Regions from separate parts of the Homo sapiens genome. Here regions 1 and 3 are each linked to region 2. Evidence: fine-mapped expression QTL. A gene starts in region 2. Each other region holds a variant in brackets. All regions are shown on one strand. Distances are from middle to middle.

Region 1 (5,220 bases), 33 kb after region 2:
CAGGATCCAATTCTGTAAGTTAAGACCAGCAGCTCCAAACTTTATCAGAATCACACTGATGCTTGTTAAAATGCAGATTCCTGGGCCCCTGCTCAGTAGATTCTGATTCTGTGTATCTGGGATGGGGTGCCAAATCCTGATCTTTTAGAGGCACCCCAACTTGTCAGTGACTGGGGCAAAACCCTTCTTCGGTACTGACTTCTGATTGTGCCCCCTCCCACTTGTTTCTCTGTGATTAGCAACTGGGAAAAAGGAAAGAGGGCGATGACTGGATATCTTTGTGGGTCACAAACAGTTGGGTTCATCTGAATGGGAAAAAACAAAGCAGTTTAGTAGACTTGAGATTTTAGTGTTGCTTCTTTGAAGTGGGCCCTCTGGGTTAGAGGCTGGTCAGGTGGGCTTCCTAGGCGGTGACTTTGGCCTAGGAGATGTCCTCCAGCATTGGCTGCGATGGCTGTGTTAGTGACAAATCAGAGGGAAGGAGGGAGCTTGGCGAGTCCTGAAGTCTTAGAATTGAGATGCTTTTTAAGGGAAGCTTTTGTCCTGGGAAAATGATACCTCTAATATTTAAGATGAGGTAGTATCTAAGTCTATTCTAAACAGTTTTTTGTTAGAATGATTTTTCTTTGTTGTAAAAAGTTGTTAATCAGCCGCCTATTGTGGGTTGTTAACATCTCAAAAGGGTGTTTAAAAATAATAAACCCCAATTGCTCCCAACAATTAACCTTGGGAACAAAAGTAAATGTGAATGCTTCTTAACCACCTTTCTAAGCCCTCAGTGAAGCTGGCAGCCATCAGTTAAATAAACCATTAAGTTTATTAGTTTAAGAATAGAAGTGTCAACTTGGACACAGTTTTCTAATTTGCTCCTCATTTACCCAACAATCATTTATTCAAAGGCTGCTCTGCCTAGTAGACTTTAGATAAATCTACAAATAAAAGCCAGAGACTGATGGGCAGCTGGAACTCTAAGGGAATCATCCAAATGGAAAAAAAAGTGAATAAAACACAATTTAATAAACTTGAAATTTTAGCAGCACATGTAAAAACAAAAAGCGTATGCCTTAGAGCAATAGCTTTGTTCTCTTTCTGTAGTCTATTTTAAGTGGGCCCTCTGGCCCAGAATTATCAGCCTTGGATTAGGAGCTTTGAGGAAATGGTGGTTTCGTGGTTGTTTTTTAAAGGATTTTTAAAGAAATGTAGTTACTAAGCAACTGCCATGACCTGCTGCTAAGTTGGAGTTCAGCGGGCAAGTCGATTCCAAAGAAGGGAATATATAAACAAGTTTCAAGAAGGGGAAAACATGGCTTAAAGATAGATTGGGTGTACTTTTTTGTTCACAGTTCAATGCATAGTTCTTTCTCTCTTTGACTTATCTTCCCCTAAGAAAGGGCTGCCTGGTCAGAAATCTTTGTCTCACACGGTTCTGCCCATAGCCGGTGAGCTCAGAGGAGGGCCAGAAAGGAACAAATGAGAAACAATCCCCACCCAGTGTAGAGGGCCAAGCCCTGGGGTGGGGCCAGCACCCAGGCGGTCTCCAGAGGTAGACTGGCCTGCTGTTATGCTCTAGGACAGTCCAGGGCTTAGGTTGGGGCACCTCATTGATATTGATGGCTTGCCGTGTAACCCTCAGAACAGGAACATTGTCCAGCTGTTGTCTCTCTACCCTCCGCCACCCCACCCCCCGCAACGTTTAATGGGTGAGTCAGTGACTTAACTGCTTCCTCCAGGATTTCAGGAACAGGAGTAGGTAATGAGGACAAATCACCATAACACCGGCGTGTGATGAATGAAAGAGCACACGAATTTAACCCGTTGGTTAAACTGATATCACAGTGAACAAAAGAAACTTTGTTGAGAGGAGGTTATTTGCCTCACTCCATTCCTTCCCCTTTAGGCTTTAGCAATTCCCCTTACACCCAGTTGAAGGTCAGTCTGGTTGCTTTGCAGAGGGAAGGGGAGTGTCAGGTGCTGGAACAGGTGTTTTGTTTTCTCCTGTAGAGTCATACGGACTAGGTGGGGATGCTTCTTGCCAGCCCTCTATGGTGCACGAAATTGCTTTTGTGGAATTTTTTCCCCTGGAAGTGTGTTTGTTTTTTAAAGCAGTTTCCCAACCTTCAACCCCTAGTATAAATTTTGACTCGCTTCAAAGTCAGCTTGTCATAGTGAAGTGTGCCTGTTTTCTAGCATTTCCACGGCCTGTGGCCTTAGATATACCCCATTTTATGCGGCAATTATAGGCCTGGAAAATGTGTAATTGTGTGTTTGGTAAGTGTGAATATTGTATTTTAAATGTCCTAGGAGAATGTCACAGCAAAGCAGCCCTATAAAAAGCCTTTTATAATAATTGTACAGCTAGAGTTAATTTTCTTGTATCAGGTTTTCTTAAATTCGGCATAAACCTGTATTACATTTCCAGAGTGATAAGGCTGTTTCCAGCTGTTGTGATGGTCTCAATGGGCTATAAGGTTAGGGATGGACTTATGACCTCACTGACTGGATGATTTTGGAGGTGAGAGGTGTCAGCCGACTTCTCGGTTTGGGAGAATTTATGTTTTAATGTATGCTACTGAAGCCAAAGAGGCTATTGGTTAAAAGGGAAATAACTCAGGAGAGCTTTAATTCTCCTCATATGGTTGTTACGGTTGTGAGGTTTGTTTGTTTTTACCTCTGTACTGGGTTCCAATATCACCCCCCTTCACCCCAGCCAAAAAGTCATCCTGAAAAAATTGTCTTCTTGCCTAACAATGATATAATTGACCTCAGGTCCTTTCCAGCCCCTCCGCTCTGCGTCTCAGGGCCATCTGTTCTCTGCAATCCGCTTTTTGGGAAAGTCTCCTTTCCCATCTGCTCTCCTTGGGCCTTAGTGTC[A/T]GCTCTAAAGATTTATAAAGGTTGCACTGGAACCTCTTTCCAGTTGTTATTTTTATAAAGGATCAGTGACATTTTGAGGCAGATAAGAGCTTTGTGCATTTGACCTGCCCAAATGCTACTCCCTTTTCAGGTGCATTCTTTCCTTCTGTTAGTCTGGGGTTGAAGGGAAGTCTGTCTTTCTGTGCTTAGGAGGAGGGACTTTGCTTATCAAAGCAAAGACTGAGTGGGCTGGCTCTGGCTGCTTTTAAGCCAAGGGGCCTTCTGGCTTTTTGGCTGCTGGCATGCAAGCTCAGAGGCGCTCCTTGAGTTCATTCTTTTCCCATCTTTTCCCTTGTTTCCGTGACAGAATACAGTCGCTTTGAATCGAAGATACATGACTTACGAGAACAAATGATGAACAGCAGCATGAGCTCTGGGTCTGGGTCCCTCCGAACAAGTGAAAAGAGGTCCTTGTATGTCAGGTAAGTTGCCCTTCAGAGCACTAGCCCTTGTGCTGGACGAGGAGAGCTCCATGCCAACCCAGCCCTTCTTATTTAACTAGTGGGCTAGGGAGTATGTACTCCCAGTTCTAAAATAACGCTTCTCACTGTATGCTTAGGTTGTGTATTTTATGGTCAGTGTCTCCTCCCTTTTGTGAGCTGGCTTCTTCCTTTTAGCTCATGAATGACTCAGTATGGGAAAATTTCAGTTTGCTCTAATTGTAAAAGACTGTTGGGTGATTGTTGCTAGTCAGCATTCAAATATCAGTCAAATGTTCAAAGTACTTTGCTTGCAATCTGTGCTTTGAGGGGAAACTTGCCACCCCCCCATCCCCTTCCATGTATGCATAATAGACATCAGGATTTGTATCTGAGCATAGCAACTATCGCAGTGTTCTGGTACAGGATCTCTTTTAAGAGACCAAAGAACTGACAGGTTGCTGCATTCTGGATGTTTTATTGTGATTCCATTCCCCCCTCACCACCCGCTGCACTGGTCTGCTGTATCTATGAATCATGGGATGTATAGTGTATGTGCCCTAGGAAGAGGGAGGGGGTGGAGGGAACAGATAGGTAGCATGGAGTATATTGCTGCTGAAAGCTATTCCAAGATATTTCCAAGGTTGAGCTTCTCTGACCCTTGAGGCATAGCTTAATACTTTGTCAGGTCAAAGTACAAATCTCCTGGGGAGTTGGAGTGCCAAGTGAATACTGTGGACTCCTCATAGAATTAGGGATAGCTTCCTTCTTCCTGCTTTGGCTTCTTGGCAAAACTCCAAAATCTGGTGCCAAGTACATTGTATCCTCCAAGGTTAAAGCCCTTAGAGAAAGGTGGTGGGGATTACTCTCCTGAGCCAGAAGTTGCTACAGTATTGTGTTTAATGCTTAGGTGTGGGGTCATATCAAACTCTTGGGCTGAACTTTTTCTAGTGGCCTCTGATACCTGGCTGGGAAGTTGCACTTGCTAGTTGCTTGGCAACGTGACAACTGCTCTGTCCTTGGGGTGTGAGAGGACAATAGTGAAGGGATGTCAACGCTAATTGCAGTTTTTCTCATGGTGCTTGCTTTTCTTTTTCCCCAGTTGGTGGTCCCTGACTCTACCGCAGGGAGTGGAGCTAAAGGAGCCCATCTCTGAGCCTGAAGCCCACTAGAACCCTTCACAATCTTTCCTAATGTGAACCCTCAACTCCACCCCTTGTGTGTTGAAAGCATGTGCTATGCTTACCTCCCGCTGTGAAGGGAGAATGGTAGGAAGGCGGGACTAGTCACTGGTCATTTTTCCAATTCCCCGGAAAGGAAAGTTTTGTTTTCTGTCACTAAAGCCCTTGCTCCCAGTCTGCAGCCTGGATACTGGGGTGCTGATGGGTGAAATCAGAAATGCACTGTCGACCCCCCAAAATAGGTAATGGTTATATGACTTGGTCAGGATTGTTCCGTTCCGTGCTTCCAGCCCCCGCAGATGTGGCACTCCAGTGTGCGTGGGAAGCTGCTCTTTAGGCAAGACAGTTTCTTTGGAGAGCTTTATTTTTAGATTTCCCCTCTCCGCCTATCCTGTGTTAGAGTTCTCTCTGCCTGGGCAGGGGGAGTGGGACATTGGCTCCCGATATGGAGCACTCTTCCCTGGCTCAGGCAAGGGAATTAAAGGGATACACTTAGCTTAACTCTGGGGCGAGGGTGGAGACCATGACTGTGTCTAGTGAATCAGTTTATATAATCTGCCCGTAACCTTCTCTAGATAAATTATCTGTATCCTCTGAGGAAAGTAGATGTGGTTAGGAAAATAGTAACCATTTGTGATCACTAGATTTAATCAGGGGCACTTAATGTCTTATGGCTAAAGCATTGAGCTGAGGCCCTTTGCTAAGCTAAC
Region 2 (5,220 bases):
TGGATGGATGGATGGATACAAAGTACTGTAAAATAAAAATTTGTCAAGTAGTTGATAATCATACAAATGCACAATAAACTATGAGGTAAGAAAGTGCTCATCGAGCTCACCATATTCGTGATTGTTTGCTTTTGAACTGCATGGTGGTAGGGAGGTGCTCCTTACAATTTTCGCTTTGCATACATTTATTCCTTGATTCAACCCACCACCACTTCCACTGCTGTCACTCACTGGTTCACCAAAGGTTAGGTAATTATTTACTTGTTTTCATTAATCTTTCTATATGTATGCATAGCTCATATTTATTTCAATGTTCAATATCAGAAGTGTTTTGGGTCTTTATTTGGAAGCTGGGTGATGTTTTGTGACCAGAAATATGCTGTAGGAACTTAGCTCTTGTTTATATTAATTAGCCTGTGGTAAAATTGGTTTTGTTATACGTTGTTTCACTTAGTCCCAGTTGCCAAGGACCTACCAATGATGTTAAATGAGGACCTACTGTACTACATAATTCACTTATTTATTGTGTTTATTTTTGTCTGTGTCCTCTCACTAGGAGGTAAGCTCCCCAAGGGCAGGGATTTGTTCTGTTTGTTCTGTTTTATTTTGTTTCCTGCTATATCCCCAAATCCTACAACAGTGTCTGGCACACAGCAAGTGTTCCACGCATATTTGTTGAATTAAGAATGAATCTCTGAGGGCCGGGCACAGTGGATCACACCTGCAATCCCAGCACTTTGGGAGGCCAAGGTGGGTGGATCACTTGACGTCGGGAGTTCGAGACCAGCCTGGCCAACGTGATGAAACCCCATCTCTACTAAGAAAATACAAAAATTAGCCGGGCGTGGTGGCAGGAGCCTGTAGTCCTAGCTACTAGGGAGACTGAGAGGCAGGAGAATCGTTTGAACCTGGGAAGCTGAGGTTGCAGTGAGCTGAGATCACGCCACTGCACTCCAGCCTGGGTGACAGAATGAGAATCCATCTCAAAAAAAAAAAAAAAAAAAAAAAAGAACCTCTGTATCCCTAATACCTAGGTCAAGGTCTTGCACAGAGCAGGTGCTCAATGAATATTTGCTGAATTGAACTGAGATGTAAATTCTGCAGGAGAACTTAGAATAGACCTGTCGTACTAGAGTGGTTCACAGCGTGGACTCTGGAGTCAAATAATCAGGATTTGCATCCTGATTCTGTCACTTCCAGCTGTGTTACCTAGCTGTGTTAACATCTTTGAGCCTCAATTTCTCATTGGTAAAATGAAGATAATAATAGCATCAGCTTGGTAGGATTTGGGTTTGCGTGTTATGCACTTAGGACTTTGTAAAGACCCAATAATTGGTAGCTAAAAACAAAACAAGAACTGCAAAAAAGATAGTCTTTCTTGTATGTCATCCTTCCTCCATTCCCCCGACAAGCTGAGCCAGGAGAGGGTAAGGAGATGTCCTTGGACAAGTATTCCTAAGCTCTATTCCAGACCCATAGAAGGGTTTCTCTCTCTTCAAATCCCTTCTTACCTTTTCACCTGTCCTGGACTTTCATCTTGATATCCTGAAGTTCCTTCCCCCATCATAACCATGCAGGGGTGGAGTGGAGGAGATAGGGGTTTGTGGGCCAGGGACAAGGACTTAGAGCTTTCTGTTAATCCCTGTTCTAGGGTTGAGTTCTTTACTGGTGATGGTAGAAGGTCAAGTGTGAGGTCACAGTAATTTCAGGGCCTAGAGACTGAGAGAACAATAGTCTTGTGTAGGAGGCATTGACAGGACAGCGGGCCTCATATGCTGCCTTCTTCTTTGGTCCCCTGTAAGAGAAAGCACCTCCCTCACCCTGCTCCAACGTCCTTTCTGTCCATCCTGCTACCTCGTCTTTACTTCTGGTGGCCCCAGCTCAGAGCAAGCCTGGGGACCCATTGAACATCTCCCTGCAACTCCCTCTTGGAAGTGGGGTGGGGTGGAGTGGGCAGAGGACAGGCTAAAACTGGCGATATAAGGGCACAAGATCGGGTGCCTGAGCTTTCTGGTGGCCCACGTCCTCTGCCCCCGCCCTTAGAGCCAACAGTTCCCTAGAGATTGGGGGAGCTGGGGCTGAGCCTGGGGGCGCCGCTGCCTCTGTTCCTTTAAGTAGCCGCTGTTTAGCATTCCTGCCGCCGCCGCTGCCGCTGCCGCTGCCTGCCTCTGCGCGCTGATTGGCTGGAATCAACTGAGAAGGGAGCCAGGGAGAGATGCTCTTGACTCCACTCAGATCCATCCTGGGGACCAGAGCAGAAGCGGTCCTCACAGCACCCATTCTCTGCTTGAGCTCCCGCTTCTTCTTTGCCGCTGGGCCTCGGCCCAGAAGCCACGACGGGCGACACGGAGCCGCCAGTGCTGGAGGGGGAGCCGTGGGTGCGGGGCAGCGTGGGGGCCGAGGCCCCGGGACGCCCGCCCGGCCCCAGGCCCCGCTCAGCCCGGGCGCCCCCACGGGTGCCCCCCCCTTCTTGGTCCGAGCAGTGTGAGTGTGCCAGGGAGCCCGGCGGCGGCGGCGGCGGTGGTGGCGGCGGTGGCGGCGGCGTGGAATCCGGCGTGGGCTGGGGGGTCCGAGCCGCGGGGGGCAGTGCCATGCACAAGCACCAGCACTGCTGTAAGTGCCCTGAGTGCTATGAGGTGACCCGCCTGGCCGCCCTGCGGCGCCTCGAGCCTCCGGGCTACGGCGACTGGCAAGTCCCCGACCCTTACGGGCCAGGTGGGGGCAACGGCGCCAGCGCGGGTTATGGGGGCTACAGCTCGCAGACCTTGCCCTCGCAGGCGGGGGCCACCCCCACCCCTCGCACCAAGGCCAAGCTCATCCCCACCGGCCGGGATGTGGGGCCGGTGCCTCCTAAGCCAGTCCCGGGCAAGAGCACCCCCAAACTCAACGGCAGCGGCCCCAGCTGGTGGCCAGAGTGCACCTGTACCAACCGGGACTGGTATGAGCAGGTATGGACCAGCGGAGGGGGGAGCGGTGGGGCAACCCAGGAGGGCTGGAGAGTGGGGGCCTAGAGGCCTGGGATGCAGTAGGGGTCGCTGGGGCTCCAAGCCTGTGGACCCCGAGCCCTAGCATTGCAGCTGGGCAAAGAGAGGCGGTGGGAAATGTGTGGTTCCCTGTGTGTGTCTGTTTGGGGGTCTCCATTAGAAGACTGGGAGGAGCCGTGTGTCAGGGGGTAAGGGCATGGCGGAGGGGCACATTTTCCTGTGTGGGGGAATTGGGTTTGTCTCAGTGTGGGGGTTTGGCAATGTCTCTGTGTCTGGCAGGGGGCGGGAGGTTCTGCGGGGGCTGTGTGTGGTGTGTGTCTCCACCGGAGGGGAGGGGAGGGGGCATGGTGCTCTGCGTAGGGGGGACATATGTGTGTGTATGTATGTTGGGGTGTGTGGAGGAAGGCAATGGAGCTGCCGTGAATCCGTGTGGAGGAGCCCATGTGCCCGGCTCGCTGAGCTTCATCCCTTGATGCCATGAGTCCCTCTCCGTCCCAGTCCCTTTGTGTGTGAATGTGCACATGGATGTGTGGAGATGTCACTCTGAATGTGGAGAGGTCTCTGTAGAGGAGGCTGCAGGGATGGCTGTGTTTGTGTGTGTGGCTACATGTATATGTGTGTGAGCATGTGGCTGCAAGAGTGTGCACGCGTGTGCCTGGTGTGTGTGTGTGAGTGTGTGTTTGTATGTGTTGTCTCTGGTGAGAGGCGCTTGACAGGCAAGGGAGGGGAGAGGAAGGAGGCGAGAGACATGTCCCAAGCAAGGCTGAGAGGCTGCTGAGAAGGACGGACTCTTTTGTCCAAGCAGCTCTGTAGTGTGTGTGCCGGGGTGGGGTGGCGGGGGGCGGGGGGAGATTTGAAGGAACTGAAGCAAGCCTCCTCGCTCTAGAGCAGGCATGGTGCCTGGAGCCGGCAAGGGGCAGCTGCCCTGGTGCAGAGACTGGCCCCAGTGGGGCATGTCCCCCTTGGGTACCTCCAGATGTGAGAGGGCTTAGCCCCCCAGCCCTGACTTGGCACAGCTTGGGAGCCCCTGGGTGCTGGGCACAACTCCGGCTTCCACTCCCAGCCTAAACTGCCAGCTTAGAAAATGGAAGGAGCATCTGTGGGAGAAGCAGCAAAATGGAGGCTGGGCTGGCAGAGCCAGGTCCCTGGCACGCAAGGCGGAGGGCCTGTCTGGTTATCCGGCTCTGCAGCTCCTAGGGTGGGGAGAGAGGAAGAGGAGGCTTTGCTGTCGAGGGCAGGTGATGACTTCCCCAAGCTGGTGACCGTTCTGGCTGCCTCTGTCCTCTGGGGATAGGATGTGCTCTCACTCAGAGGCAAAGGTGGGGACTTCCTGGGGAGAAGAGCCCTCAGTTCTGGCCTTCTGTCTGTCCACACTTACTGCTTTCCCACATCCCTTGCCTTGGCCTCTTGCCCTTTCCAGCGAGTCCCTCTCTCTCCTTTGCCCCCTCTCTGTCCTGGAGGCCTTTCTCTCGCAAACACCCTCTTATGCTTGTCCTGCCCGGCTGGGAGACAGGTGGCAATCCCAGGCTGGGCCAGTTGGCCAAGGTTTCTTTGCCAGGGCTGATCCCTGGATGGCTCCTGGCCCTGAGAACAAGGTCCTTGAGTAGGGGTGGGGGCTAGAGCGTGGACCACTGGGAACGGGAAGCCTCTGGGTACCACTGGGGCTGGGCTTGAGGCATGGCTTGTCACATGTGGGCACACATGGTACACCAAATGCACACAAGAGCCACATGGGTGTCCCTTTGCTTATGTGTCTGTTGCATGGTACTTAAGGCAGCTGTGTTGGTTTCGGGTCTCTAAGGAGCCTTCAGTTCTTCTTCCTGGGGTCACAGACCAGGGTAAGGCTGTAGCTGGAGTCCTCCCACCAACTCCCACAGCTGCAGAGCCAGCCCAGAAATGGTGGAGGCATGATGAGCTAGTCCTCTCTCCCTCTCCTCCTCTCTGCTTCTTGAAGCCAAAGCTGTGTGGGGTGGAGGTGGGACGGGGGAAGCACAGCAGGACATGTGGAGGAGCCCCCACCCTGGTTTCCAGCTCCCCACTTCTGAGGAGGAGGCTAGAGGTCAGGGAAGGGACAACATAGCCAGAGAAAGGTGGGGGAGGGGTGCCAGGGTACCTGGGGAGACAGGCAAGAGGGCTTCTCCATTCTTGGAGGTGAAAGTGGGAGCCAGCAGGCAGGTGCTGCTTGTATGTCCAGAATCACATTTTCACTTGACAAATAGATACACACATGTCCTGT
Region 3 (5,220 bases), 25 kb after region 2:
GTTTGTTTGTTTCATTTTTGTTTATGAGATGGAGTCTCACTCTGTCGCCCAGGCTGGAGTGCAGCGGCGCGATCTCGGCTCACTGCAACCTCTGCCTCCTGAGTTCAAGCGATTCTTGTGCTTCAGCCTCCTGAGTAGCTGGGATTACAGGTGCCCGCCACCATGCCCAACTAATTTTTGTATTTCTAGTAGAGATGGGTTTTCACCATGTTGGCCAGACTGGTCTCAAACTCCTGACCTCCGGTGATCCGCCCGCTTCGGCCTCCCAAAGTGCTGGGATTACAGGAGTGAGCCACGCGGCACCTGGCCTAGTATAGCATTTTCACTCAGTAGCTCTTCTTGCATCCTCACTAAGCTCTTTGGGGGACAAAAACATCCAGTCAATAGGGATAAACTGGAAATTTTTATGGCATGCTGATCCGGCATGTTTTGTTTTCTGTTTTCTTCTCAGTATCCTTCAGGATGGTATCCAGAACCCTGGCTATGTGTGTGTATGGCCGAGGAAGCATACACAGTGACAGTGCAGGGACCAGAATAAGGACACCCAGCTTTCTGGGTTAGTCATAGTTCCAAAATTATTCTAAAAGTAGAACTGAAATTATTTTTCCTCAAGCAATATTTGCCCATTGAAGCCTATTTGCCATATTTCTGCCCTCTCACATAGCCTTGAGAAATATTTTTGGTAATTTATGTTTATTGATTTGGTATTGTTTTTACCCAAAGAGTTTAGAATTATTTGCAGATTTGAAGATTTCCCTCTCTAAATTATATTTAAAAATTAAATCAGACTAGTTCTAACTTTGATTCCGTATGGACCTCATTGATTTGGTCATAAAATCATAATGATGTCATAATTAGAAGGGATCTTAGAAATTATCTAGTTTTAGAGGTGTTAGACAACACCTCTAAACAATGGACCCATCATTAGAAACTAACCCAAGTAATAGGCTTCATTATTATTATTTTCAGACAAGGTGTTACTCTGACACCCAGGCTGGAGTGCAGTGGTGTGATCATAGCTCCCTGTAGCCTTGAACCCCTGGGCTCAAGCGATCCTCCTGCTTCAGCCTCCTGAGTAGTTGGGACTACAGGCGTACACCACCACGCCTGACTAATTCTCTTATTTTTTTTGCAAAGACAGGGTCTCAATATGTTGTGCAGGTTGGCCTCAAAATCCTGGCCTCAAGCAATCCTCACACCTTGGCCTCCCAAAATGTTATGATTACAAGTGTGAGCCACTGCATCTGGCCCCATAACTATTTTATAAAGACAAGTTTGTGATTCCTAGAAATGTTCTGATATTTGGCAATTCATATACTTACTCCATACTAACAAGTATCTTCTTAATGGGCTTATTTTACTTTCACCTCCATCCATTTCTTTCTTTTTTTTTTTTTTAAGATGGTGTCTCACTCTGTCACCCAGGATGGAGTGCAGTGGTGTAGTCTCGGCTCACTGCAACCTCCCCCTCCCAGGTTCAAGTGATTCTCATGTCTCAGCCTCCTGAGTAGCTGGCATTACAGGAGCCCACCACTATGCCTGGCTAATTTTTTGTATTTTTTTTTAGTAGAGATGGGGTTTCACCATGTTGGCCAGGCTGGTCTCGAACTCCTGACCTCAAGCAATCCACCTGGCTCAGCCTCCCAAAGTGCTGGGATTACAGGCGTGAGCCACCGCGCCAGCCCATCCATTTCTTTTTAAAATATGAACCATAGTGTGAAGGTTTATACTCCAAAGGCAAATATAGGAACCTAAACCACAATTCATACTCCTCAAATTCTGTGACTCTCTCTGAGGCTGTAACTTCACTTCCACCAGAGTTCTGTTATTTTTCACAATTGGTGACTTATTTCTTTGAGCCTCAGGGCAGCTCAGCAATGGCAAATGAGGGCTGTATGAGTTTGAGATTTGAATGTCTGCACTTCCATAAGATGGAAAGAACTTTTTGGGCAGCAGTTGATTTATTTTGAGGTTATAGGCAACTAAAACACGAGCCATTATTCAGCCATGTCTTCCCTACTCAATATTTGTGTGGGAACTCAAGGTCAAGAAGATACAGTTCTCTATTTCACTTTATTTTTATTTGCATCTTCTGATTCTTTCTACCTATCATAATCTGTGTGTTTGAAGTCTGTCATCCAGTTGCTTCCCCAGTGTCATCGTCATTTCTAATTTTTTTTTTTTGAGATGGAGTCTTGCTCTGTTGCCCAGGCTGGAGTGCAGTGGTGTGATCTCAGCTCACTGCAACCTCTCTGCCTCCTGGGTTCAAGCGATTCTCGTGCCTCAGCCTCCTGAGTAGCAGAGATTATAGGTGTGCACCACCACGCCTGGCTAATTTTTGTATTTTTAGTAGAGACAGGGTTTCACCATGTTGGCCAGGCTGGTCTCAAACTCCTCATCTCCAGTGGTCCGCCCACCTCGGCCTCCCAAATTGCTGGAATTATAGGAGTGAGCCACTGCACCCAGCGTCATTTCTAAATTTGATAGGCAGGATGTTATTTTGTAGCTTTTCCCTTTTATATCTTCATTCGAGTCATTGGTAGTCTGTACTATATGCAGAATAAATATCGTCTGTTGCTACCACTTGTTTCCTGTCTCTACAATATTTTCCTGCCTATAATCAAATAGAACCAAATAAACAATACAGGTTGAGAAACTGAGCACCTCTCAGCTTTCCAAATTAATAAAAAATGTCATCTTTAATTTTTGACAATTTTCCTGTCATTAGGCAGGTAGATGGATTTGGAAGCAGAGGCTTAGAGGAGAGACGGACTTGGAAGCCTGGGTGTGTGTCCAGTTCGCAATAGGGAACTTGTAGTTTCAGTCCCCTTTGATGCCTTATTGGGCTGTTAACTATGTCTTGAAACCTCTGACATGTTAGTGTTTTGCAGAAGTGGTTCGTGGTTTTGTTGGTCAG[T/G]TTTTAGCATGTTTGGGTGGGTGAAAGGAGAAAGTTTGTATTCCTTTTTTTTTTTACATTTGTTCCTGAGGAGCCAAAATTTGAGAATCACAGAGTCCAGGTTTGTCCTGTCAGACCTCTATATCCAGTTGGCACATTCAATAAATGTTGACTCAACAGGGGTGCAGATCGCCACACTAAACCTTGAGAAGGAAGCAAAAACCACATCAAGGAGCTTATATTTTAGTAAATGACATCACCACTAATTCTGAGCACTAGATTTTAAAAGGGTGAGGTAGTGGAGGGTTAGGAAACTATGTTGGATGAAGAATGGTTAAGGAAATAACAACATTTAGCCTGGAGAAGACATAACTTTTTTTTTTTTTTTTGAGACGGAGTCTCCCTCTGTTGCACAGGCTGGAGTGCAGTGGTGCGATCTCGGCTCACTGCAAGCTCCGCCTCCTGGGTTCACACCGTTCTCCTGCCTCAGCCTCCTGAGAAGCTGGGACTACAGGCGCCCGCCACCACGCCCGGCTAATTTTTTGTATTTTCAGTAGAGACGGGGTTTCACTGTGTTAGCCAGGATGATCTCAATCTCCTGACCTCGTGATCCGCCCATCTCGGCTAAGACATAACTTTTTGAGGACATTCTTGAGATCATTCTTCATTATGGCTGATATTATCCCACCTTTTCCATGTCTCCAAGGAAAAAACTCAGATTCTTTGCCTTTGATCCTTTCTCACTCTACATCCAATCAGATGTCAAATTTTCTCCCTTCAAGCCCCAATATATTTCTTTTTTGTCTTTCTCCACTTTTGAAGGATCCAACATATTTCTTGATTCCTGTCTCTTCTTTCTGTCTTCATTGCCCTTATACTATGTCAGGCCTTTATAATTATTGTCTGTAGTAGTAGAGCAGCTTCCCGGTCTCTGTTATCTCTCTCTCTCTGTCCTCCAATTCTGTCTTACACTCCCAGAATAATTTTCCCTCAAACCTAGTTCTAATTGTGTTACTTTCCTGTTTAAACACTTAAACGCAGTTCCCATTGCCTAGTAAGAGAAGTGCTATCTCAAGCACTTATAATCTGGCCTGCAACCTACCATTACTTCCCCTTCCCCTGTTTGCACTCTGCCATCTACTCCCATTTTATTCAGTAGTCTTGTTCCAGTCTTTTCCAACTCTTTGACCTTCTTTAAACTATTCCTTCACACTGTTTTGAAGGAAAGAACCCATCATGTTTTATGCTGTTTTAGACATGAAAATTAGGACCAGCTGGCAGAAGGGATGGCGCTAAACCAAAAAATTTTCTCGGCTGGGTGCAGTGGCTCACGCCTATAATCCCAACACTTTGGGAGGCCGAGGTGGGTGGATCACTTGAGGCCAGGAGTTTGAGACTAGCCTGGCCAACATGGTGAAACCCCGTCTCTACTAAAAATACAAAAAAATTAGTTGGATGTGGTGGCGGGCACCTGTAATCCCAGCTACTCCGGATGCTGAGGCACAAGAATTCCTTGAACCTGGGAGGCGGAGCTTGCAGTGAGCCGAGATCACACCACTGCACTCCAGCCTGGGTGACAGAACGAGACTCCTGTCTCAGAAAAGAAAAAGAAAAAAAAAGAATTAGAGAGCTTCCCAGTATTGGACATGTTTGAGCAGAGGCTGAAGGGCTAGCTGGTTTGGATGCTGTAAGAGCAGGGGCTTCTTATACTAGGGGCTGTGGAGAATACACAAACATAGAAAGCATGTGCTTCGTCTGTCAAGAAACTTAAATGTAGATATAAGACACTTCACTTATTCTCTCCACAGTAGCCAAAGTGACACACATATCTGATCATGTCCTTCCGTTCCTTAAAATCATTCAATGGCTTCTTTCCATTGAGAAAGAATTTATCTTAGGATAAAAGCAAATAACCTGTCCGGGCGCAGTGGCTCACACCTGCAATCCCAGCACTTTGGGAGGCCGAGGTGGGCAGATCACCTGAGGTCAAGAGTTCAAGACCAGCTTGGCCAACATGGTGAAACCCTGTCTCTACTAAAAATACAAATATTAGCTGGGAGTGGTGGCAGGCGCCTGTAATCCCAGCTACTCAGGAGGCTGAGGCAGGAGAATCGCTTGAACCTAGGAGGTGGAGGTTGCAGTGAGCTGAGATCATGCCATTGCACTCCAGCCTGGGTGACAAGAGCGAAACTCCGTCTCAAAAAAAAAAAAAAAAAAAAAGCAAATAACCTTACCATAGTTTACAAGGCCTTGTATGATCTGACCCCTGCTTACCTCTTAGTCTGATCTCCTGCCAGTATCCCCTTGCTTTCCTGTGTTCCATA

Which allele goes with the higher level. Alleles are on the strand shown, and positions count from the first base shown. SD is a standard deviation of normalised expression in the study named. Not every link is listed here.
In carriers of allele T in region 1, the expression in cerebellum of the gene that starts at base 2,225 in region 2 tends to be lower than with A alone (moderate effect, 0.45 SD a copy in GTEx).

The links.
Region 1: its variant is fine-mapped to the expression of DLG3 in cerebellum (GTEx, PIP above 0.99). The same link has a PIP of 0.9 or more in cerebellar hemisphere.
Region 3: its variant is fine-mapped to the expression of DLG3 in whole blood (TOPMed, PIP above 0.99). The same link has a PIP of 0.9 or more in blood mononuclear cells.

What each region holds. Positions count from the first base shown.
Region 1 is chrX:70,475,933-70,481,152 of GRCh38, forward strand. DLG3 (discs large MAGUK scaffold protein 3) reads left to right here. Exons shown (of 19, transcript NM_021120.4): 10 at 3,218-3,332. Among named protein-coding and RNA genes, the nearest start is that of DLG3-AS1, 23 kb to the left of the region's middle. RefSeq lists enhancers at 1,163-2,061, 4,120-4,621. The variant A/T (reference allele first, on the strand shown) is at 2,872.
Region 2 is chrX:70,442,611-70,447,830 of GRCh38, forward strand. DLG3 (discs large MAGUK scaffold protein 3) reads left to right here and starts at 2,225. Exons shown (of 19, transcript NM_021120.4): 1 at 2,225-2,948. The coding sequence starts at 2,592. RefSeq lists an enhancer at 1,743-2,529.
Region 3 is chrX:70,468,063-70,473,282 of GRCh38, forward strand. The region is part of intron 9 of DLG3 (discs large MAGUK scaffold protein 3); the gene reads left to right. Among named protein-coding and RNA genes, the nearest start is that of DLG3-AS1, 15 kb to the left of the region's middle. The variant T/G (reference allele first, on the strand shown) is at 2,918.